Linked DNA regions of Homo sapiens: region 2 is linked to region 1. Evidence: fine-mapped expression QTL. A gene starts in region 1. The other region holds a variant in brackets. All regions are shown on one strand. Distances are between the middles of the regions.

Evidence for each region. PIP is the estimated chance that this variant, and not a neighbour inherited with it, causes the effect. A credible set is the group of variants that fine-mapping cannot tell apart.
Region 2: its variant is the best candidate, but not a certain one, in a credible set for the expression of RBM15B in whole blood (Lepik 2017, PIP 0.54).

Annotation. Positions count from the first base shown.
Region 1 is chr3:51,389,059-51,394,427 of GRCh38, reverse strand. RBM15B (RNA binding motif protein 15B) reads right to left here and starts at 3,143. Exons shown (of 1, transcript NM_013286.5): 1 at 1-3,143. The coding sequence starts at 3,028. The coding sequence ends at 356. It overlaps MANF (mesencephalic astrocyte derived neurotrophic factor), which reads right to left. Exons shown (of 4, transcript NM_006010.6): 4 at 5,031-5,369. The coding sequence ends at 5,339. RefSeq lists enhancers at 621-1,128, 1,129-1,634, 3,620-3,669 and silencers at 2,530-2,589, 2,700-2,779, 2,820-3,299.
Region 2 is chr3:50,856,944-50,862,312 of GRCh38, reverse strand. All of the region lies in intron 3 of DOCK3 (dedicator of cytokinesis 3), which reads right to left. Among named protein-coding and RNA genes, the nearest start is that of MIR4787, 180 kb to the right of the region's middle. The variant C/T (reference allele first, on the strand shown) is at 2,358.

The DNA.
Region 1 (5,369 bases):
TGATTGATTAAACCAGGACTCTGAACAGGTTTAAAAATCCATCCTCTGTCAAAGGTTTTACTGACAACTTTCCATACAGTTGGTCAAAAAATAAAAAAATACAGAACCACAGCAGACAGTATCTTGTACACTAGAAATCAACATAACCGGATTCCCTTCTCATCGTTTAAAAAAAAAAATCCCCCAAAATCTAAGAACTTAGTTTTGGTGGTGGACAGGACTTTGATCCCCACCCAAATGAACCAAAATAACCCAGGAGATAATTCAAACCAAAGTGGTAGGGTAGAGAGGGGATCAGATTTTAAAATAACTGCTTTTGTGACACAAACATGACGCTGGGAAAGACAGGCTTGGGCTAGGCAGTGTCTCTGACGATGACTATCACCATGTGTTCTTCTTCTAGCTTGCCCAATGTCCTTAGTGCTGACTGGAGGTACTGCTGGGAAAAGTCGCAGGGTGGGAAGGCGTAGAGCATGCCTGTGCCGTCTCTGCCCTTGGACCCCCCCACTGGCAAGCTGATCACCCCTGCGGCCTGCTTCTGTTTCAAGTAGGAGACCAGGTTCCTGAGAAGCCGCCTCTGCAGACCGGGCTCTACTGTGGGCATCCCCTCAGTGCCAAGCCCACTGGGGGTTGCCTGGGTGGCTAAGAGGACCGCATAGCCGTTGGGGCTCCCCTGCTTGATGCGTCGTGTGACCTCGTCAAGCTTGGGCTGGTCCAGTCGAAGGCGCTGGGCGATCTTCAGCTGGGTCAGCTTGCTCCCAGAAGTGTGGTCTTTGAGGAGACTGCTGATCACCCCCTGGTCCCCCTCTAGGATATGCATAGACGTGGGGAAGCAGCTGTTTTTCAACACCAGAAGCCCATTCCAACCCAGCTGTAGTGTCTGAGCGTACTCTGAAAGATTCTTCAGCTTTTTGGTCTCGTGTTTTGGCTCTTCCAGAGGCTTGGGCTCGGCCTCTGTGGTCCGGTGATTGCGCTCGCTGTCTCTTGCCTTCTTCCCGTGGGAAGAGTCTGCAGCCTCGTGGTGGTGGTGGTGGTGGCCCCGTTCCTCAGCCCCATGTCTGCTGTTGCTGAGGGAGTTGCTGCTGGACTCCTTGGTCCCTTCACTGGAGTGGTTCTCCTTGCGGCTGCGCTCAGGGGTGCGGTCGGAGCCCCGCTCTGACTGCTGCCCACTGCCCTTGGTCCTACTCCGTTCCTCATATGGTGAATGGGTTGTCCTCCCACGGTCACTGGAAAGGCTTCTCCGTTTCCGCCTCTCTTCCCAGGGCTTGGGCAAACCACGGTCTCCATCTGCCCCCCAACGCTCACCACTCCGGCTGCGCACTGAGCGACTGTAGCCCTCAAGGCTGTTTCGGCGGTCAGAGCTTTTACTGGGGCTGGTCCAGTCCCCTTCCAAAAAAGTCCGGTCTCGGTCTGAGTACAGAAGGTGTGGGGGCGTCCTGTCCCGCACCAGGTCGGCGTCCAGGTTGCGGTGCCGGGTGTATCCATCTGTGAGCAGCTCATAATGCACAGGGAGTGGCGAGGGCTGGTACTGCTGGGGGTACCGAGTCTCCTCTGCTTTGGCAAAATCCACGCGGAGCCTGCGGTCTGGTCCACCCAAGGGAAAACCCCTCATTTTAGCACAGGCGGCCTGGGCTGCGTCCAAGCTCTCGTACTGAATATAGGCAAAGCTATCTCCTTTGACGTGATCAATGGTCCGAATGCTCCCAAAGCGGTCAAACTCTCGGGCCAGAGCCGCCAGTGACGTGTTAGGTCCCAGGCCACCCACCCAGAGACGAGTGGTGGGGTTGGCCTTGCCATAGCCTATCTTAATGGGGTTGCGACCAATCACTCGGCCCGACATGGCCACCTTAGCCCTATGGGCCATGTCCAGGTTCTGGAACTTGAGGAAGGCATAGGCACCGCCCTGGCCACGGGCAGGCCTCTTGATGACCACCTCCTCGATGATGCCATATTTCTCGAAGGCCCTTCGCAGCTCCACCTCAGATACGCTGTGGTCCAGGTTACCAATGAAGAGGTTGCGCGTGGCCCGCTGGTCATCCTCGGGCATCAGGTCCTCCTCACACACAGCTGGGTAGCCATAGGGGCGCCCACGGTCGTCGTACAGCCCGTAGTAGTCCAGGGCCCGCTCCCGGGACAGTCCCACGGCGGCGGCAGCAGCGGCATCCAGGGCGAAGGCTGCGGCGGCGTGACGGGCACGGGGCTCCCGCAGGGGCGGGGCAGCGACGGGGGACAGCGAGCGCTGCTTGTACTGGTAGCCTCCGTGTAGCGGGAGGTAGCCGAGCGGGTCGGCGGGCGCGGGCGGCCCTGGGGGAGGCGTGGAAGCGGCGGCGCTGCTGCTGCTACTTCGCCGACTGCTCCCGCCGCCGCCACGCAGGTACACGGGCTCTACCTTGAGCGGGCGGTCGTAGAGCAGCAGCTGCCGGGCCAGGGCGTGCTGGCGGGCCTCGCGTGCGTCCTGTGGGTGCCGGAAATTCACGTAGGCCACACGGCCCAGCTCAGGCGTGTGCGACAGGCGGAGGCTGATCTCGCCGAAGCGCTTGAACTGGTGGAAGAGCCGGTCCTCGAGGTGCTCGGCGGGCAGCGCGGGGCTCAAGCTGCTGATGAGCAACGTCTTGTACTCAGGCGCGGCCGCGGATGAGCCGGGACACGCGGGCTCGGCCCCAGGCGGTGGCGGAGGCGGCGGCAGAGGAGACGCGCGGGGCGACATGCCGGAGGCGCCCGGGTCCCCCGAGGCCTTGCCGCCGCGTCCCCCGCCGCCAGCGCCGGAGCCCGAGGAGCGCCCGCTACTCGCGCGGTGATTCGCGTCCCCGGTGCCGCGGCCGTCGCGATGCCCGCCCCCGCCGCTTCCGCTGCCGCGGGGTTTGTCGCGGGCCCGCGCTGGAACCGGGTGCTTGGCGCCGCCAGAGGCCTTGTGCGCCGCCCGCCGCCCGCCCGCCTCCGCCTCCCGTTCGCGCTCCCGCGGACGCTTGGCGGACGATGACGAGCCGCGCCCGCTCGGGCTAGAGTCTCGCTCGCTCTGCCGCTTCATGGCGCTGGCGCGGCGGGCGGGCGGCCCGTAGGTTTCTCACAGCGGCGGCGGCGGAGGCGGCGGCCGAGGAGGCAGCGCCCCCGGCGCCGCCATCTTGGACAAAAGGACTCGGCGCGGCGGTGGCGGCGGGGCGGGGCGGGAGCGGCGCCGAGGGGCCGGGCATTGCGTTATCAAGGTGCGCCGTCCTGCCACGTGACTCTGCGGCGGGCGGAGCAAGACCCGCGCCGGGCCTGCCTCATCGCGCTGCGTCGCCCAGTGCCAGGTGACCCTGTGAGTGCTGGGTGAGTGGGACCGGCCGCGCGCTCTGGCGCCACCGCGCGGCCCGCATGGCCGATGCTTGAGGCTACGCGGAGTGTAGTGAACCCTGAGAGGCCGGCGAGACGACCTAACGCTTTGTGCTCCCAGCCGTGCTTTGCCGCTCTGGGTCCAGCTATCTCCTCTTGCAGGCACTGGAGCCCGCGCTGATTGGAGCAGGAGTGGCAGCTTCCATGGCCGTTGGGATCTGGGGCATTGACCCAGTCAGTGGTCTCTTTATGTAGTATCCCCTCAGTCCTAGGACTAGGCTTGAGCAAACCCCACATCACCCTCGTTGGCATCTCCTGCCTGGGATCCGGCGTTGACGGCGCCAAGGACTAATGCATGCCTATCCTTAGACCCTGCCCAGGACCCAAGGCCCACATTCTGCGCATTCTCCACGTGCAGGTTCACCTGCAGCAGTCCCCGAAAAGGCCGTGAGGACAATTGCTGTCACGCAGGTAATAACCGAAAGCAGAGACAAGCCTGCAGTTGCAGTTGATGGAGTTGGAATAGACTCTTTAACGCCACTCTTGGGTCCCACCCTCTTCTGTGGGCAGATAGCAGGCTGGAAAGGTAGGGCCGTAAGAGCCAAGGATGAAGAGGCCATATGCACAGATAGTGCCAGCAGTTATCACACCTTGCCACGCTGACCCCTCGCTGGCCAGTACCCTCCTGTTCATCACCTTCAGGACGACCTCTTCTCCCCAGGTGAGGTGAGGGAAAGGGTGCCCAGGTGCTCAAGCCCATTGAGGAAGCTTTCATTCTCCAAGGACAGTTGCTGGAGCCATGGTAGAACCTGACCCAATTTCTGGCACAGAATCCTTGCGATGGGGAAGAGCAGACCAAGTCATGCCCTCTTCGCACAAAGAGAAAGCAGCTCCTGGAGTAGCTCAGGCAGGTGCAGGGGGAAAGGTCTTGGAAGAAAGCAATGGGTTCCACAGCAGCAAGGCCTCCTACAGGCAAACTGAGCTTAGGAGACACAAGTGAAGTGATCTGAGGCAAGACCAATTACTTGGAAAGCACTGGTTCTTAGTCCGTCCTTTCAGGTGGTTTCTACAGGTGTCTTCATTGAGCCACAGCTCACACTAACAACTGGGTTTCCTAAGCACCAGTGCCACAGAGAGTGGCTTAAGAAGCAGACTCCAGCAAAACCCTGGACCTCAACTGTTAGACTAATCTAGGGTAAACAAAGGCAAAAGGCAGCTTCCCACTCCCTCTTTGTATAAGCTGACTCCTGCCAGACTTGCAAAAACTGGAACAGACATCAGAGGCTTGGAATGGACAAAAGAGCAAGTAGGTGGCCAGGCCAACAGCATCTTTATAGAGATGTCAGTGCTGACGTGCACTGATTGAAGATATCCTTGTGGAAAAACCACACTCCAGACACCCTGTCTTGCTTGTACTGAGCCACAATATAAGGCCCTCCAATGTATCCCAGACTCACTCCTCCTAGAGCTGTGGCCTCCAGCTCTCTTGGGCGGGTAAGACAGATACTGTATCAAGGGGCAGGGTATCAAGCGCAGCACCCCCCGCCCCCGCCACCTCCTTTCTGCTGAGTGCCTGCTGCCCTCTAGTGGTACACACCCACACACATCAGCTGGCCCCAGCCCCTATGTCCTGCTCTGGTATTTTCAGCACTGGTGGGTTGAGAGATAAATGGGAATGAATAACCCCCCAAACTCTGCAACTGGAAAGCAGAAACTGGTAGGAGCCTCCTGGGGCAAAACCCCATTTTGGTATTCACTATAATTCTGCAAGGACAGCTAGAAATTTTTTTTCTTTAATAAAAAAATCCCAGACACACTTTGAAGTCCTAGAGTACACCAGCAACAGAAGGAAGGGAATCCCCTCATGGGGGTACTGTAGGGCCAGCATCATCAGGAAAGCTCCAGGCTTCACATCTGATACAGTATTGTCAGGAGCCCACTTAAAAAATAAATTACAAAAAGGCTGTTTTGGGAGTAAGCAGTTGAACTGTTTTTTCCCCCTCAGGTGCAACAGAGATTGAGCAGACTACAAATCGGTCCGTGCACTGGCTGCCTTG
Region 2 (5,369 bases), 530 kb after region 1:
CTCTGCCCTGAACGATATATGTAAGCTAATTCATCCAATACATGGCTACAACAAACAGTATCTGAGAAAGCTGCCACACAGAAGGTATCCACAACTAGGGAACACATACAGAGCTTTGGCCCCCTGAAAGCACCCAGGAACTAAGCCAAACAATTATGCACATCCAGACAAGCAACTGCTAAAAGAAATAATCACCACCAAATCAATCTCGCAAGAAATGCTCAAAGGAGTTCTAAAGATGAAAATGAAAGATACCTGCTACCATAAAAGTGCATGTAAGTATAAAGCTCACGTATCATATGAAGCAATTATACAATTGAGACGGCAAAGCAACTAGCTGACAATACTATCACAAGGACAAAACCTTACATAGCAGTATCAACCTTGAACATAAATAAATGAAATGGCACATTTAAAAGACACAGAGTGGCAATTTGTATTTAAAAAAAAAAAAAAAACGACCCAACCTTCTGCTGCCATCTCATATGTAATGACACCCAAAGGCTCAACATAAAGGGATAAAGATCACACAAATGCAAAGCAAAAAAAAAAAAAGAGAGAGCAGGGGTTGCTCTTATTCTATGAGATAAAACAGACTTAAGACCAGCAACAGGAAAAAAAAGACAAAGAAGGCCATCATGCAATGATAAAGCGGTTCAATTCAAAAGAAGATTTAACTATCTCAAATATATACACACCCAATATCATACCACCCAGGATATAAAACATATACTACCAAAATTACAAAAAGAGACAGAGAGCCATACAGCAATAGTGGAGAATTTCAATACCCACAGACAGAACTAGACACATCACTGAGGCAGAGAAAAAAGAAACTGTGGACTTAAATTAAACTCTTCACCAAATGACCTAATAGACATCTACAGAATACTCCAAGCAACTACCACAGAATATACCTTTTTCTCATCTGCGCATGGGACATTCTTAAAAATTGACCATTGGGGAGTAGCAAAGATGGCTGACTAGAAGAAGCTAGTGTATGTGGCTCTCACAGGAACAAAAGGGGTGAGTAAATACAACACCTTCAACTGAAACATCCAGGTACTCACATTGGGATTAATCAAGGAAACAACTTGACCCACAGAGAACAAAGAAAAGCAAGACAGGACAACGACCCACCTGGGAGCAACATAGAGCCAGGAGATCCTCCACCACCCAGCAAAGTGGTGAGTGAATGAGCAACCCTGGAAAACCATGCTTCTCCCACAGATGTTTGCAACCCTCGGATCAGGAGATCCCACTAAACCAGGACTTTCAGTCTTCAGTCTGAGCTACGTAGAGTCTCGGCAGAGCAGCCACTCAGGCATGCATGGAGACCCTGGAGCCCTAGATACTTGGGCTTCCAGCAAAAGTAACTAGAGCTACAGCAAAGTGGAAGGTTAGACTGCTGTATGTACCCCTAGGAAAGAGACTGAATCCAGAAAGCTCAGCAGCAACGGCCTGCAGGCCCCACTTCCATGGCACCTCAGAAGATAAGACCCACTGGCTTGGAATTCCAGCCAGCTACAAGTAGTGGCACTAAACCTCCCTAAGAAGGAGCTCCCAGGGGGAGGGGCAGGCTGCCATCTTTGCTGTTTGGGCGACTTGGCCATTCCAGACTTTGGGCTTTGGAGTCTCTGAAGTGAGCAGGGACTGAACAGGACCCCAAGCACAGCACATCTGCTCTACCAAAACATGGCCTGACTGCTTTTTTAAGTAGGTCCTGACCCATTACTCCTCACCAAACAGGACCTCTCAACCGTGGTCTCCAGCCAACTCCTACAAGTGGCTTTGGGCCAGCAGCCAGTTGAGTATACCCCAAGCATACAGTAGCAGCCCTTTGGAAAAGTGGCCAGATTATTGTATGAGTACCTGTTCCCATATCTCCTCACTGGGTAAGTCCTCCAGGCCTAAGCCTCAACTATCAACTATAGAGCCAGAACTATCAAGCCAGTACCAACTCAGCAACTCCCTAAGCAGAGCCTCCAGGGGCATCTGAAAGCCTCTCTGGCACTGCTTCTGCAATGGAAGTGCCCTTCCTATCCTCAGAAAAGAGGAAGAAAAGACCCTAAGGGCCTTATCCACACCTCCAACAAGCTGCAGTCAACCCAAAAAGAGCAGGCCATTCTGTCTCCTGCAGGTCCCATACAACCCCCATGGCTCATCACCAGACAAGGAACCCCTGACTTGGGCCCACAGTACAAACCCTCCATCATGGACTGACTGCACTGAGCAAATTCTGACCTGCATCTCTCTGGGTTGGGGTCCCCAAGAGTCAACCAAATGACCCTTGGCCACAACCAGTACCAAGATCTCTTCCTCTGCTGCCTCTAAGCTGGGAAAGAAACATAAACACT[C/T]GGCACAGAGCTGCAGTGGGCAGCCAAGAAGTACAAAGTCATAAATTACAGCCAGCACTCAAGAAAGAGAGAAACCCACACTTCCACAGCATTGAGAGGGAACATTGCTGCAACTATGAGGAAACACAGAGGAGCCACACAACTGAGCAAGAGTCTACCAACTGACCAATGAGCCTAAGTGTCGCCTTCTGGATTATATCCCAAAACTTCAACACCAAAAATACCTCACTAACATAACTCCCTCTGAAACTAGAGACAAGAAGTCAGCTTCAAATAAAACCCCCACACAAAGCCTCAGCTTGGTGAAAACATCCAGAAAAGTCAACTGACTGTACTCAACCTACACTGTAGTTAAAGGAACACCCACATGCAGAGATGAGAAAAAATCAATGTAAGAACTCTGGCCAGAGTGTCATATGTCCTACAAAAAAACCACACCGGGCCGGGCGCAGTGGCTCACACCTGTAATCCCAGCACTTTGGGAGGCCGAGGGGGGTGGATCACGAGGTCAAGAGATTGAGACCATCCTGGCCAACACCGTGAAACCCAGTCTCTACTAAAAATACAAAAATTAGCTGGGCATGGTGGCATGTGCCTGTAGTCCCAGCTACTTGGGAGGCTGAGGCAGGAGAGAATCGCTTAAACCTGGGAGGCAGAGGCTGCAGTGAGCCAAGTTCATGCCACTGTACTCCAGCCTGGCGACAGAGTCAGATTCCGTCTCAAAAAAAAAAAAAAAAAAAAAAAACCATACCAGTTCTCCAACAAGAGTTCTTGACCAGGCTGAACTAGCCGGAATGACAGAAATAGAATTCAGAATTCAGAATACAAGTAGAAACAAAAATAATCGAGAGTCAGGAGGATGACAATATGAAACCCAAGGAAAATAAGAACCACAATAAAGTGATACAGGAGCTAAAGGACAAAATAGCCAATATAAAAAAGAACCTAACGGGTCTGACAGAGCTGAATAACACAATACAAGAATTTCACAGTGTAATCACAAGTATTAACATGAGAATAACCAAGCTAAGGAAAGAATCTCAGAACTTGAATACTGGCTCTCTAAAATAAGACAGAGAAAAATAAAGAAAAATAGAATAAAAAGAAATGAACAAAACCTCTGAGAAGTATAAAATTATGTAAAAAAGAGGCCAAATCTATGAATCATTGGCATCCCTGAAAGGGAGGGGGAGAAAGCAAACGACCTGGAAAATATATTTCAGGATATCATCCATGAAAACTTCCCCAACCTTGCTAGAGAAACCAACAGTCAAATTCAGGAAATACAGAGAACTCTTGCAAGATTCTACATAAGAAGATCATCCCCAAGACACATAACTGTCAGATTTTCCAAGGTTTGAATAAAAGAAAGAATGTTAAAGGCAGATAAAGAGAAAGTGCAGGTCACCTACAAAGGGATCCCCATCAGGGCAACAGCAGACGTCTCAGCTGAAACCCTACAAGCCAGAAGAGACTGGGAGCCTATACTAAACATTTTATTTTTATTATTATTATTATTATTATTATTATTATATTTTAAGTTACAGGGTACATGTGCACAACGTGCAGGTTTGATACATATTTATATATGTGTCGTGTTGGTATGCTGCACCCATCAACTCGTCATTTACATTAGGTATTTCTCCTAATGCTATCCTTCCCCCTGACCCCCATCCCACAACAGGCCCCAGAGTGTGATGTTCCCCGTCCTGTGTCCAAGTGTTCTCATTGTTCAGTTCCCACCTATGAGTGAGAACATGTGGTGTTTGGTTTTCTGTCCTCGTGACAGTTTGCTCAGAATTATGGTTTCCAGCTGCATCCATGTCTCTGCAAAGGACATGAACCCATCCTTTTTTATGGCTGCATAGTATTCCATGGTATATATGTGCCACATATTCTTAATTCAGTCTATCATTGATGGACATTTGGGTTGGTTACAAGTTTTTGCTATTGTGAATAGTGCTGCAATAAACATACGTGTGCATGTGTCTTTATAGCAGCATGATTTATAATCCTTTGGGTATACACCCAGTAATGGGATTACTGGATCAAATGGTATTTCTAGTTCTAGATCCTTGAAGAATCACCACACTGTCTTCCACAATGGTTGAACTAGTTTACACTCCCACCAACAGTGTAAAAGCATTCCTATTTCTCCACATCCTCTCCAGTATCTGTTGTTTCCTGACTTTTTAATGATTGCTATTCTAACTGGTGTGAGATGGTATCTCATTGTGGTTTTGATTTGCATTTCTCTGATGACCAGTGATGATGAACATTTTTTCATGTGTCTGTTGGCTGCATAAATGTCTTCCTTTGAGAAGTGTCTGTCCATATTCTTTGCCCACTTTTTGATGGTGTTTTTTCTTGTAAATTTGTTTAAGTTATTTGTAGATTCTGGATATTAGTCCTTTGTCAGATGGGTAGACTGCAAAAATGTTCTCCCATTCTGTAGGTTGCCTGTTCACTCTGATGGTAGTTTCTTTTGCCGTGCAGAAGCTCTTTAGTTTCTGTGCACAAACTAAAGGAAATAAATAATTTTTGAAAAGAATCTCCCAAGATTGAATCAGGAAGAAACTGGAGTCCTGAACAGACCAATATGAAGTTTAAAAATTGAATCAGTAATAAAAAACCTACCAAGCAAAAAAAGCCCTGGACCAGGCAGATTCACAGCCGAATTCTAACAGATGTACAAAGAAGAGCTGCGACCAATCTTACCAAAACTATTCCAAAATATCAAGGAGGAGGAACTCCTTCCTAACTCTTCTACTAAACCATTATCATCCTAGAACAAAAATCTGGCAAGGACACAACAAAAATAGAAAACTATAGGCCAATATCCCTGATAAACATAGATGCAAAAGTCCTCAACAAACTACTAGCAAACTGAATCGAGCAGCGCATCAAAAGATAATTAATCACTATCAAAAGGGTTTGATTCCTATGATGCAAGGATGATTAAACACATGCAAATCAATAAATGTGGTTAACATAAATTTGTTTTAGAAAACA